Linked DNA regions of Homo sapiens: regions 2 and 3 are each linked to region 1. Evidence: fine-mapped expression QTL. A gene starts in region 1. Each other region holds a variant in brackets. All regions are shown on one strand. Distances are from middle to middle.

Region 1 (4,360 bases):
GACCAAGGACAAGGAGTAGATGGTTGTCACCAAGCTGGGCTGCCTGGTCAAGGACATGAAGATTAAGTCCCTGGAGTAGATCTATCTCTTCTCTCTGCCCATCAAGGAGTCTGTGATCATTGACTTTTTCCTGGGGCCTCTCTCAAGAAGGAGGTTTTGAAGACGTGCCAGTGCAGAAGCAGACCTGCACCGGCCAGAACACCAGGTTCAAGGCGTTTGTTGCCATCAGGGACAGTGGCCACACTGATCTGGGTGTTAAGTGCTCCAAGGAGGTGGCCACTGCCATCTGCGGGGCCATCATCCTGGCCAAGCTCTCCGTTGTGCCCATGCGCAGAGGCTACTGGGGGAACAAGATCGGCAAGCCCCACACCATCCCTTGCAAGGTGACAGGCTGCCACGGCTCTGTGCTGGCGCGGGTCATCCCTGCGCCCAGGAGCACTGGCATCGTCTCGGCCCCCATGGCCAAGAAGCTGCTGCTGATGGCAGCTATCAATGACTGCTACACCTCAGCCAGGGGCTGCACTGCCATCCTGGGCAACTTCGTCATGGTCATTTTTTATGCCATCTCTAAGGTCTACAGCAGGCTGAACCCTGACCTCTGGAAGGAGACTGTATTCACCAAGTCTCCCTATCAGGAATTCACTGACCACCTCCTCAAGACCCACACCAGAGTCTCCGTGCAGAGGACCCAGGCTCCAGCGGTGGCTACAACATCGGGTTGTACAAGAAAAATAAAATGAAGTAAGCCTGGAAACAAAAAAACTACATTAATAAGAAACATAGAAAAAACACTAAAGAAGAAATGTTATAAAGTACCCATAATTCCAGGGTAACTTTTTCAAAAAACATACCTACATATTTTTAAATTGTTACAGTCATACAGTACATATTAATTACTATGCTATAATTGCATTACACATTTTCGTACATTTCTACCTAATTCAAACATTATCATGTAATGGCTAAATAACACTCAATTATATAGATGTTCTATCATTCCCATTCTGTTATGCACATGCCAAAAATCTTGTAGGGATAAAATCACTCATGGAAAGCCTTTTACCGACCTAGGAGGCATTCTGTATTATCTCTGAATGAGTCCCACATTGCAAATTTTTCCTCTAGATTTGGATCAGATTGCTAGTCCTTGAGCTGAGAATCAGATGAAACATTTGGCTTCCCTAACTTAAGGGCCATGTTTATTAGAATTAATTTTCTGAGAATGTATAGAGTGTCCATAGCTGATTCCAGTAAGTTAAATGTGTATAAGACTCCACTTTAAAAATCTTCAGGCATTTGGGGGTATGTGTGCTAAGTGAGAGATCTTAATTTTAATAACAGTGGAAACTCCAGACTGGGCACACCTGAAGGGCAAGGACTGTGAGCTCCGTATTTGTAGGGAAGTACCGAGGACAGCCTAGAATCCGTCTGTGGCTGTTAAATGCGGCATTTTGTAAAGACATGCAGGAATACCTGTGAATAAGTAGTTAATAGTACCAAAAATTATTCAGAGCACTTTGGATTGTTGAATAAGTGTAAGATTACCCCAGCCCATAGAGTATAAGAATTACATTTTCTAAGAAAGCTAACAAAATTAAACCCAAAATTTTATTAGCTAAGTTGATCACAGGGAACCTAGTTTAGTTATATTATTGGGTGGATCCCCCCACCCGCTACTCAGGAATGCCTCATGAAAGTTTAAAGGGCATAGTATACCGGCTAAACAACTTAAATCCCTATTTTTGGAAAAAAGAACTAGAAGCATGTTTAAATTTTTTAGAATGCAGGTAATTGGAGAAGATATTGAGCTTATTTTGCTGTTGCAGATTGATGCACCATTGATTCTTGATAACACGTCGACTCAAGCAAAGTAAAATCTGTAAGATTTGTAAAAGAATGACGCAAGCAGTCATATATAGGTATGAATATGCATGTTGTATATGTTTGGGGGCATTATACACAGATTTTTAAGTGATTCCTGGTATCCAGAAAGGATTAAGATTAGGAAAGTCTCTGAGCTTTTGTAGTGTCAATAAACATTTATCTCCACTGGTTTGTTTTTCTGTTTCCCTAACCGTTCGGCTTAAAACTGGCCCTCCAAAAATGAATCTGTTAGCAAGTTTATACTGATCCATCCTCGTTTTCAGATATACCATCCTCAGGTTCTACAGAGCCAGAATTGTCTCAAAGCGTACTTGATGCTTTTGACCTTGCGCTTCCCAAGATAAAAATTCTGACGGAGGGATTTGTGGACTTGATTTTCACAAGGCCTGCGAGGTGTTTACAAGCCTCGAGGGCTTTGAGTAGAAAAGGTAGGGTCATGCGCTAGCTAGGGAGATATCGGAGAGAGGAAGTGCTGCACAGGACCCAGATGATAGCGGTTTCAAATACTGGCTTAGTCTGCGGCGGGCGCAGGTCCCCTCACCCGGCACCCTGTGGTTCAGCACAGGAGGGTTCTTTCTCTCCGCGGGCACTGATTCCGGGTCGCGGCGGACGTCGCTTCCGGAGCAGCATGGCGGCCACTGAGGATGAGAGGCTAGCAGGGAGCGGTGAGGGAGAGCGGCTGGATTTCTTACGGGATCGGCACGTGCGATTTTTCCAGCGCTGCCTCCAGGTTTTGCCGGAGCGCTATTCTTCACTCGAGACAAGCAGGTAACTCGTGGCACAGTCAGCCAGGCTGGCACAAGGCCCGGGCTCCAGCGGAAAGGCGCGGCGGAGTCGGACCGCAAACTGGGCGCCGGAAGGGGGCTGCGCGGCCGCCCAGTTGGCACTGACTGGTTTCAAGTGGGCTTGAGGTTACCCCCACTCTCCCGCCGTACGGTGGGAAGGTCTGGAAGGCTGTAGGTCGAGGGCTGTGGCATCTCCAGTTTCCGGCTTTTTCACTTCCCTTTTCTTCTGGCAACTCTGAGCTGCTTTTTTACCCGCTCCCATAGCCTGTCACTTTGCCTCATTACTTCCGAGTGTAAAAGGAAAAGGACAAAGTTTGTCGTCGTATTTTTAGATGAATACTTCTGTGCATCCTTGTCCTCTCTAAAGTCATTAACTCTTAATAGAGTGTCTGTATGGTGTTTTATGTGTAGGAGCGGCAGAGAACCTCTAAGGTCTTAGAAACTTTGTGGGAACTATAAATCTAATGGTAGGCGAAAGAGGTGTGGTGTTGCGTGAAGCAGCCTGTTAAAAGTATCGCAATAGCTGAAGAGTGTGGTGCGGCAGAGACTAAGCGACTTCATTTACAGTAAAAGCTGGGGATGAGAAGAAAGAAAGGAGAAGGCAATCTTTGCTCCGCATTGCTGTGTTTTGAAGTGAAGCTCAAAAGCTGCTTGAGACTGGATGGGAGGAAAGAGCGGCTTGTTTTTGCTGTGTTCTTTCCCCACGTTTTCCAAATTCTGAGTTGCTGGTGTATTTTGAACACTGCATGACCGGATCAGTTTGGGGAGCTTTGCAGATTACTTCTGCACACTTGGTCAAGAACCACATTATGGTAGGTGCCAGAGTACAGCTGAACAAGACAAGCATTTGTATAGAGTTCTGTGCTATATGTTAGTGTAGTGTTCATAGGAGTATATAGACAGGCATGTACATAATCCAGATATCTTTAGAGAGGCCTTCCTTAAACACCCTTCCTAAAGGGACCACTTCCAATGACCACCTCACATTACGTATGTATTGGTTTATTTGTTTAATGTCTTTCTATTACACTGGATTATAAACTTCACAAAGGTAACATTTTCGTCTATCTTGTTTACCTCTATACTTAGGACTGGGCTGCCCTGTCCAATCTGGTAGCCACTAGCCACATTTGGCTATTTTGATTTGAATTAATTAAATCAAATTAAAAATTAAGTGATTCTTTTGGTAGTAGCCACCACATTTCAAGTACCCAGTTGCCATATTGGCCAGTGGCAATTGTTTCTATTTCAACATTTGCAACAGCTTAGTCCTTTTGGTCAACATTGCACTAGGACCTTAAATAGTACCTGGTATCTGAGAAGCACTAAGAAATATTTGTTGAATAATGTGAGCTGAGCCCTGAAGGATGAACAGATTCTCACAAAAGAAAGAGTGAAACGTTTATATTCCTTCCTCCTCTCATAGGTGTTGATCGATTAGCAGAGCCTATACCTTCACTGAAAGATTCAGATTTCCAAACCGAAAGGTTATGATTGTAGTGATATGAGATGTTTTAAAATGTTGATAAATTGTTTATATCTTAATAGGGATTAATTTTATGTGAATTCAAAGCTTTTAGATAAAAAGTCTTCCATCCTGTTTTTGTTATTGATACATAATGTGCATATTTATCGTATACATACACTGCTTAGATAGATGCAGTGTATAAGTCCTGTGAGCTGATTAAATT
Region 2 (4,360 bases), 46 kb after region 1:
GTTTCTGGACGTCTTATTTTATTCTGTTGTTTTATATGGCTGCCCTTGTGCCAGTACTATACTGTTTTAATTACTGTAGCTTTGTAGTAAGTTTCAAAGTCAAGAAGTTTGAGACTTCCAACTTTTCTTTTTCAAGATTGTTTTGGCTATTTGGAGCCCCTTGCAATTTGATATGAATCTGGTAATTGACTTTCCCATTTCTGCAAAAAAGTCTTTTGAAATTTTGATGGGAATTGCATTGAATCTGTAGATCCCTTTGGGTAGTAGTGATATCTTGACACTGTTGAGTGTTCCTATCCATGAGCACAGGATGCTTTTCCATTTATATAGGTGGTCTTCAATTTCTTTCAGCAATGTTTTGTAGTTTTCAACATACAAATCTTTCACCTTTTTGTTAAGATTAAATTCTCAGTATTTAATCATTTCAGATGCTCTTGTAAATGAAATTGCTTTCTTAATTTCCTTTTGGATTGTTCATTGCTAGTCTATAGTAACTACCAACTTTTTATGGAATAGTTTTAACAGGCATTAAGGATCATTGCTTAAATCAATTATGGCATTAAGAGGTTACAAAACAGTGGTATTCTTTCATTCCTTCTCAATTTATTAACTAGCATTGTTTTTTAAAGAAGAATTTTACCTTACCCTGAGATATACTTTGTACAGAGAAGGACAGATAAATACTGAATTCTTTCCCTTAATAGTGTTCAACAAAATGAGTTGGTTCCCTACCATCCCCTCAGCCTTTCCAATAAAATATTAGATTTTAGAGTTTGGGTTTTTTTTTTTTTTTTTTGAGAATCATTGTGAACACATAGATTTTAACATTTTTTAGTCATATATTATATATAATATATATTAGTTATATATGACATATATATATATATATACACACACACATATAATGCTTAAATTGTCCTATCTTTAGTCTATAAGAACCCTTTCAAGTTGTCCCAAGTCTTTTTTATTTGACGTCAGTAGTCTTTGACAGCTTTCTGAAGGCAACCACTTTTAAACTTTTTAAAAATGTTTTAATTCTTGTGGACATTACCATAACTTTAAATCACAGACTGACTTCTTATCACCTTTAGACATTATTGATGATTCCCAACTATGAGAAATTAAGATTTAGCCTCTCACTTTTCCAACAAATTGTTACCCGTTATAGTTAGTTCTGAATATTTTCCTCATCTTCTACCTTCCAATGCTATATAAGGTTACCTTTATTTTTATAATGTTAAGTTAGGACACATTCATATATTTGTTCAATATTAATAATCACATCTTTCAGCCTTTGCCTATAGGTTGATTCTAAAATTTAAAAACCAGTAATCAACACTTATTATGGGATAGTGAAAATATTGTTTATTGCTAAGCCAAGTGCAGTGTTACTATTATAATTTTTTCATTTTTATGTAATGACCAGTGTGCCACTGATGGAAAATATTCCTAACATCAAGATTCAAAAAAGTCTTTTTCCTTATATTTTATTAATTAAATCAATGTAAATGAATAAATTTGTTTCCTGTTTGTACCATAACTTTCTTATGAGTTTAGCTTTTCTTTTTGAGAAATAATGCTTCTTCATTAGTCACTAAAAGCTGTGGCTCTCTCTGGTTCATTAACATATATTAAATTGCTTTGTATCATCAGAAATGTCTTGAACCCTCTTACCTACTGTGCACCTCATCTTGAACTTCACAGTATTATTTATTTATTTGTATTTTACTTTTATGGGGTCTTGAGAGAAAAGCCAAGTACATGTCCTAAATCATTAAAAACTATATAGTTTTTTATGTTGCAATCATTTTTGTCTTACCTTTTTCTTTCCTAATTAAAGAGCTATACTTTTTTACTATTTTCAAAACTGTCTGTAGCATCTGGTTAGTAATTTTTGTTTGCTCTTTTTTTAAAAAATATTTTTAATTCCAGTTACTACTAGTTTATAACTAATAGCTCAAGAGCTTATCATAAGAGTTAAAATATGGGTAGATAAAATTGTACTTTTTAAAATGACTGATTATGTTGAGTGGATTCGAGTTGTCTTTTGAATTTAGCTTAATGTGATTTAAAGGGTTCAGTTGGCCTGGTTCAGAAGAAGGAAATAGAGAGTCGAGAAAAGGAGAGTAGATTTGATAAGAAAATTAAAAAGTTAATGTGATTTACTCATTTCAAAAGTGCTCAAGGCCCCAGAGACTTGGTCTGAGCACCTTAGCTAAAGAAAAGCATATCTAAATGACACGTATCTGAAATTTGAGCCAAAGGTTGATATGAGTTTTATGTCAGTAAATTTTTATTTGTCATGTCATTTCAGCTTCTAAAAATTTTCCAATACACTAACTTTGAGAAAAATAGAAATTACATCTTATCAACTCAAGATCGCCTTGTAGGGGGATTTGCCAAGTGGCCAGACAGTCATCCAGGTAATTATTTTCTTTGTGAATCAGAACAACCTTTATTTCCTGAATAGATCTTCAAGCATCTTTATCAGAAAAGGCATATGATAGAAAATATATCCAGTTGCAAAGTTACATTAAATAATATTTTTTAAAAGGTATATTGTGTAAGCTTAGGATAAATTTAGGGTATTAGAGAGTATAAATGAAAGAGTTTATTATCAAGATGCATGGGAAT[A/G]GTGTGCATTTTTTCCCAAATATTTTACTTAGTAATGTTTTATTTCATTTGCAGCAATAATGTAGATGGTCTGAATGGGTCCTTTCCAAAGAAGAGAATTATTTAGGCCATCCAAAGCCGTTAGGATTATTAGTCATGACTTGAACTAAGTATAATAAATTACTCCCAATCCTGAAGGGAATCAGTTCTTACTCTTTTCAGAAGTCATTAAATAGGCCGGGCACAGTGGCTCATGCCTGTAACCCCAACACTTTGGGAGGTCAAGGCAGGTGGATCACTTGAGGTCAGGAGTTCAAGACCAGCCTGGCCAACGTGTTGAAACCCCGACTCTACTAAAAATACAAAAATCAGCCAGGTGTGGTGATGCGTGCCTGTAGTCCCAGCTATGCGGGAGTCTGAGGCAGGAGAGTCACTTAAACCCAGGAAGCAGAGGTTCCAGTGAGCCGAGATTGCACCACTGCCCTCCAGCCTGTGTGACAGAGCGAGACTCTTTGTCTCAAAAAAAAAAGTCATTAAATAAAATATTTCAAATCCTGAATATATGTGTTTCTCACTTCCCATACTCTTGTTCTCCAAATTTCAACAGATTCAGACAATATAAATGGCATGGCACTCAAGGCCCTTCCAAAATTTGGCTCCTCTCCCACCTCTAGCATCATTCTGCAGCCTACACCTCACCCGACATATGTTTTCACCTCCAGCAAAATGAGTCTATATACAGCTTCCCTATAAAAATCCATTTAAGTGTGTTTTGAAATAATTTCAAACACTGACACTTTTGATAAGCAAGTAGTTAAAGAATTAGTTACAAATATGAAACTAGACACAAGGAATGATTGTTTTTGCCAGTATTGCAATAGAGTCGTGGTTTTTATTATCAGCCTGGAAAGTGCCTCATCAACTCATCTTCCATCACAGAACTGCTGTGGTTGGAATGTGTGATTGAATCAGAATATAAATAAGGAGCTCATGAAATCAATTTTTGTATTTGAAATGAGCAGGAATATTTCCTTACACCCCTACTTGCCTATATTTTCATATAAAACATGCTTCCTAGGCCAGGAGTTTTGGCTCACGCCTGTAATCCCAACAGTTTGGGAGGCTGAGGTGGGCGGATCACTTGAGGCAAGGAGTTTGAGACTAGCCTGGCCACATGGTGAAACATTGCCTCTACTAAAAATACAATAATTAGCCAGGCGTGGTGGTGGGTGCCTGTAATCCCAACTACTTGGGAGGCTGGGGCAGAAGAATTGCCTGAACCTGGGAGGCAGAGGTTGCAGTGAGCCAAGGTCACACCACTGCACTCCAGCCTGGGCAACAGAGCAAGAGTACATCTCAAAAAATAAAATAAAATAAATGGCCGGGTGCAGTGGCTCACGCCTGTAATCCCAGCTTTGGGAGGCTGATGCTGGTGAATCACTTGAAGTCAGGAGTTGAAGACCAGCCTGGTCAATATGGCGAGACCCCGTCTCTACCAAAAATACAAAAATAGCCAGGCATGGTGGTGCACACCTGTAGTCCCAGCTACTCAGGAGGCTGAGGCAGGAGAATTGCTTGAACCCAGGAGGTGGAGGTTGCAGTGAGCCAAGATCTCACCATTGCACTCCAGCCTGGGCGACAGAGCGAGACTCTGTCTCAATCAATCAATCAGTAGTAAAACATGTCTTCTTAGAGAAAGTGTACATTGCTTTCAAAGTCGTAAGCCAAAGTGTGTCTTCAGAAGTTA
Region 3 (4,000 bases), 23 kb before region 1:
CTAAAAATACAAAAATTAGCTGGGCGTGGTGGTGGGTGCCTGTAATCCCAGCTACTCGGGAGGCTGAGGCAGGAGAATTGCTTGAACTCGGGAGGCAGAGGTTGCAGCGAGCCAATATGGTACCAATGTACTCCAGCCTGGATGACAAGAGCAAAACTCCGTCTCGGGGGGAAAAAAAAAGGCATTTTAGATTTTTGGTACCTGTGTTAAAAATTGTGTGCAAATTGAAATGTGTGTGTACTGATTTTCAACACAACCAATAAAATCTCAATTATTAAATAATATTTTGAAGCAAAAAGAAAAATAAAAGAAAAAAGCAGATTGGAGTTGAGCACAGTAGCATGTGCCTGTAGTCTCAGCTACTCAGGAGGCTGAGATGAGAGGATCATTTGAGCCCAGGAGTCCAACCTGGGCAACATAAGAAGACCCTCACCACTTTAATTAAAAAAAAAAAAAAAAAAAAAAAGGAAAGGGGATTGGTTAACATCTGTTTACTTCGGGTAACTTATGAAGGTAAAAGCAGAGAGGCTTTTCTTATTACTCGGGCTCAGGTTGACTGGACCCTTTCTGATTGGTTGCCGTGCATCTCTTGTTTTCAGGAAAAATTGGTCAGTTGGGGAAATCTACCTCTTTCCTCAAAGTTTCATTTTGATCATGTGGCACTTAGCATGAGTAACTCCATTTTTATTTTGTCTGGTCTTTTGGGGCCTACTGCAGGAGCTCTGTTCAAAACAATAGCCTCCCATAAAAGTTGAGTAGCATAAATAACTGTTACAATTCAACAATAAATAGACAGCCAAATTTTTAAAAAGGGAAAGGATTTAAGTAGACATTCCTTAAAAGAAGTGGCCAATAAGCAAGCACATGAAAAAAATGCTCAACATCATTAGTCATTATGGACTAATCAGAACCACTGTGAGAAATCACTTCATACCCATTAAGATGACTGTAATAAAAAAGACAGACGATAACAGTTATTGGTGAGCCTGTGGAGAAATTGAAACCCCTATACATTGCTGGTGGGAATGTAAAATGGTGCTGCCACTGTGGAAAACAGTCTGGCAATTCTTTAAAAAGTTTAAAATTTTGGGGCTTCGAAGGCATTATCAAGAAAGTGAAAAGACAACTCAGAGAATGGGGGGATATATTTACAAGTCGTATGTCTAATAAGGGACTTTTACATCCAGTATATAAAGAATGCTTCCAGCTCAACAATAAAAGGGCAATCCTTTGTTGTTGTTGTTGTTGAGACAGTGTGTTGCTCTGTCCCCCAAGGCTGGAGTGCAGTTGTGTGGTTATGGCTTACTGCAGCCTTAATCTCCTGGACTCAAGTGATCCTCCCACCTCAGCCTCCTGAGGTGGCCTCCTGGTGGCCTCACACCACCATGCCTGGCTAATTTTTTTTTAAGTTTTTATACAGACAGGATCTTGCTATGTTTCCCAGGCTGGTCTCAAACTCCTGAGCTCAAGCTATTCTCCCACCTTGGCCTCCCAAAGTGCTAGAATTAGAGGCATGAGCCACCAGGCCCCACTATGCCACCCAATTTTTCAAAATGGGAAAGTAAAAAAAAATAGTTACTTTATGATCCAGAAATTCTGCTGCTAGGTATATAATGAAGAGAATTGAAAACATGCATTCACATTAAAACATGTACACAAATGTTCAGATTAATTTGGCCAAATAATGGAAACACCCCAATTGTCCATCAGCTAATGACTGATGAGTAGATAAAGAAAATGTGGTAGACCCATATAATGGAGTATTATTCAGCTGTAAGAAGGAATGGAGTATTGATTCATGGTA[C/T]AACACGGATGAATCTTGAAAACATCATGTGAAGTGAAAGAAGTCAGACAAGGCTACACATTGTATGAGCCCATTTATATAAATTCTCCAGAATATGCAAATCCATAGAGTCAGAAAGTAGATTAATGGTTGCCAGGAGCTGGGAGGAAGGGGAATGGGGAGTGACCTCTAATAGGTATGAGGTTTCTTTTTGGTATGATGAAAATATTCTGAAACTGGGTAGTCATGATGGTTACAAAACTTTGTGAATACACTAAAAACCACTGAATTGTACACTTCAAACAGACATATTTTATGGTCTGTGAATTACATTTTGACTTAAAATATATTTCCTAGATTTAGATTTAATACTTTGTTCTTTTTTGCTCCTGGAAATTTGAAGCCTTGTTTCCTTTTCCCCTCATCCCCCACAACCCATTTTTATTGCTCAGCAATCCCTCTGGGTGATACCTCCAAAATACATTGAGTCTTCTTTTATTTTCTGTCAGCCCAGTAGTCCTGGACACTGTCATTCCTTGTCTCTATAGCTGTACTAAGTACCTCATTGATCTCCTGCTTCCAGTCTTGCCTCACTCCACCCCCACACCTCCCATCAATTTCCTCTCCAAAAAAATAGCCAGAAAATTGTTCTTAAAGAGTTAAATGTATCATGGCATTTCCCTGCTCAAAACTCTTCAATAAAATCCAGACCCCCTAAGTGACCTAAAATATCTGTATGATCTGGCACATACCTGCCTCTCTACTTTCATTTTCCTACCAAGATCCACACCGTTACTAATCTCATGACACAATTGGCCTTTCTCTGCTTGAACTCAGCAAAGTCTTTCATGCTCTAGGGCTTTTGCACATGTGGATCCCTTTGCTTAGAACACACTTTCCTACTGCTCCTGTCATGGCTGGCTTCAATCTTCCTTAAAGTCATCCCTTCAAATAGACCTTCTGTGACCACTGTAACTGAAACCCTTTCTCCGCTTTCTCCATCTGAGCCCTAATATTTATTTTCTTAATAGCATTTATTGCAGCTGGTGGAGTTTTCATTTTATTGCTTGTTTACTCTTATCTCTTTAAATCTGTTTTTCCTCACTAGACCTTCAGACAGGGACCATATTATTATAGATCATCATTGTTTTCCTAGTGTCTAATGTAGCCCGTGTCACTTCATAGTGTTCAATACATATTTGTTAAATGACCGACTGAATGAATTAGATCATTTTGCAAATAATCCCTGGATATTTAACATTTCTTACTCAGTTTAGCATTTTAAGATAGATATTCCTTCATTTGATAGATACTCCTTCTTCCACAAATGTACTTTTAAGAGTTAAGTGAGATTGGCCCCAAAATTATCCTTCAAGAAACTCAACTATTGACATTTTATCTCTCTGAAAAAATTCCACATTTATGTCTTACTATTTTCATTACTGTTAAGTTTTTCTTGTTCTCAATGCAGAGTGATGGCTGTTTTAGTACTTCAGGTGGAATTCGTCCTTTTCATCTTCAGAACTGGAAGCAGAAAGTTAATCAGACTAAGAAAGCAGAATTTGTACGCACAGCAGAAAAATTTAAAAATCAGTAAGTATAAGAATATAATCTTCAAATAACATTACTAGCCATTTTATAATGGACAATAAAAAATTAATTCTACTCTACCCTACCTAGGCTCACATTAAGTTATAAAATTGTAATCACTAGCCTGTCAAATATAACAAGAGAAAGATGGGAGGTATGAAATAATAGGCTGTTCAATATAAAGTTAATTGTAAATAGAGTTATTTCAATTTTCTTTATTTTTACAATTTTGAATCTGTGTATTTCAAGGGAAAAAAAATAGCTGTTTCTTTAGATTTTATATAACGAATAACAGACTTAATCTATTTTCACTTTATAACTAAATGCCTGGTAAATGTTTTTGAGGAAGTGAATCGTTTTTGTGTTTTTTTATTATGTGTATATGAAAGTGTTTTATAATGTTTTATAAATGACGAACATCATATATTTAAATTGCTCTTCTTCCTGTTTTACAAATGAGGATGTTGAGGATCATAGAGGATAAACATCTTTCCATAGGTTACATGGTTAATAAATGGTGTTTGAGGGACTCTTAGGCTGGCTCCAGCCACTCTGAAAGCCATTGTTCTTCTTACTAACCAGTGATGTTCACCACCAAGCCTATTTGAATATGTGGGTGTGATCTCA

Evidence for each region. PIP is the estimated chance that this variant, and not a neighbour inherited with it, causes the effect.
Region 2: its variant is the best candidate, but not a certain one, in a credible set for the expression of PGGT1B in prostate (GTEx, PIP 0.83).
Region 3: its variant is the best candidate, but not a certain one, in a credible set for the expression of PGGT1B in esophagus mucosa (GTEx, PIP 0.57).

What each region holds. Positions count from the first base shown.
Region 1 is chr5:115,261,004-115,265,363 of GRCh38, reverse strand. PGGT1B (protein geranylgeranyltransferase type I subunit beta) reads left to right here and starts at 2,487. Exons shown (of 9, transcript NM_005023.4): 1 at 2,487-2,652. The coding sequence starts at 2,513. It also overlaps the pseudogene RPS2P26. RefSeq lists enhancers at 2,369-2,418, 2,449-2,628.
Region 2 is chr5:115,214,928-115,219,287 of GRCh38, reverse strand. PGGT1B (protein geranylgeranyltransferase type I subunit beta) reads left to right here. Exons shown (of 9, transcript NM_005023.4): 8 at 2,315-2,423. Among named protein-coding and RNA genes, the nearest start is that of PGGT1B, 46 kb to the left of the region's middle. The variant A/G (reference allele first, on the strand shown) is at 2,635.
Region 3 is chr5:115,284,163-115,288,162 of GRCh38, reverse strand. It overlaps CCDC112 (coiled-coil domain containing 112), which reads left to right. Exons shown (of 10, transcript NM_001040440.3): 2 at 3,255-3,376. Among named protein-coding and RNA genes, the nearest start is that of CCDC112, 10 kb to the left of the region's middle. The variant C/T (reference allele first, on the strand shown) is at 1,805.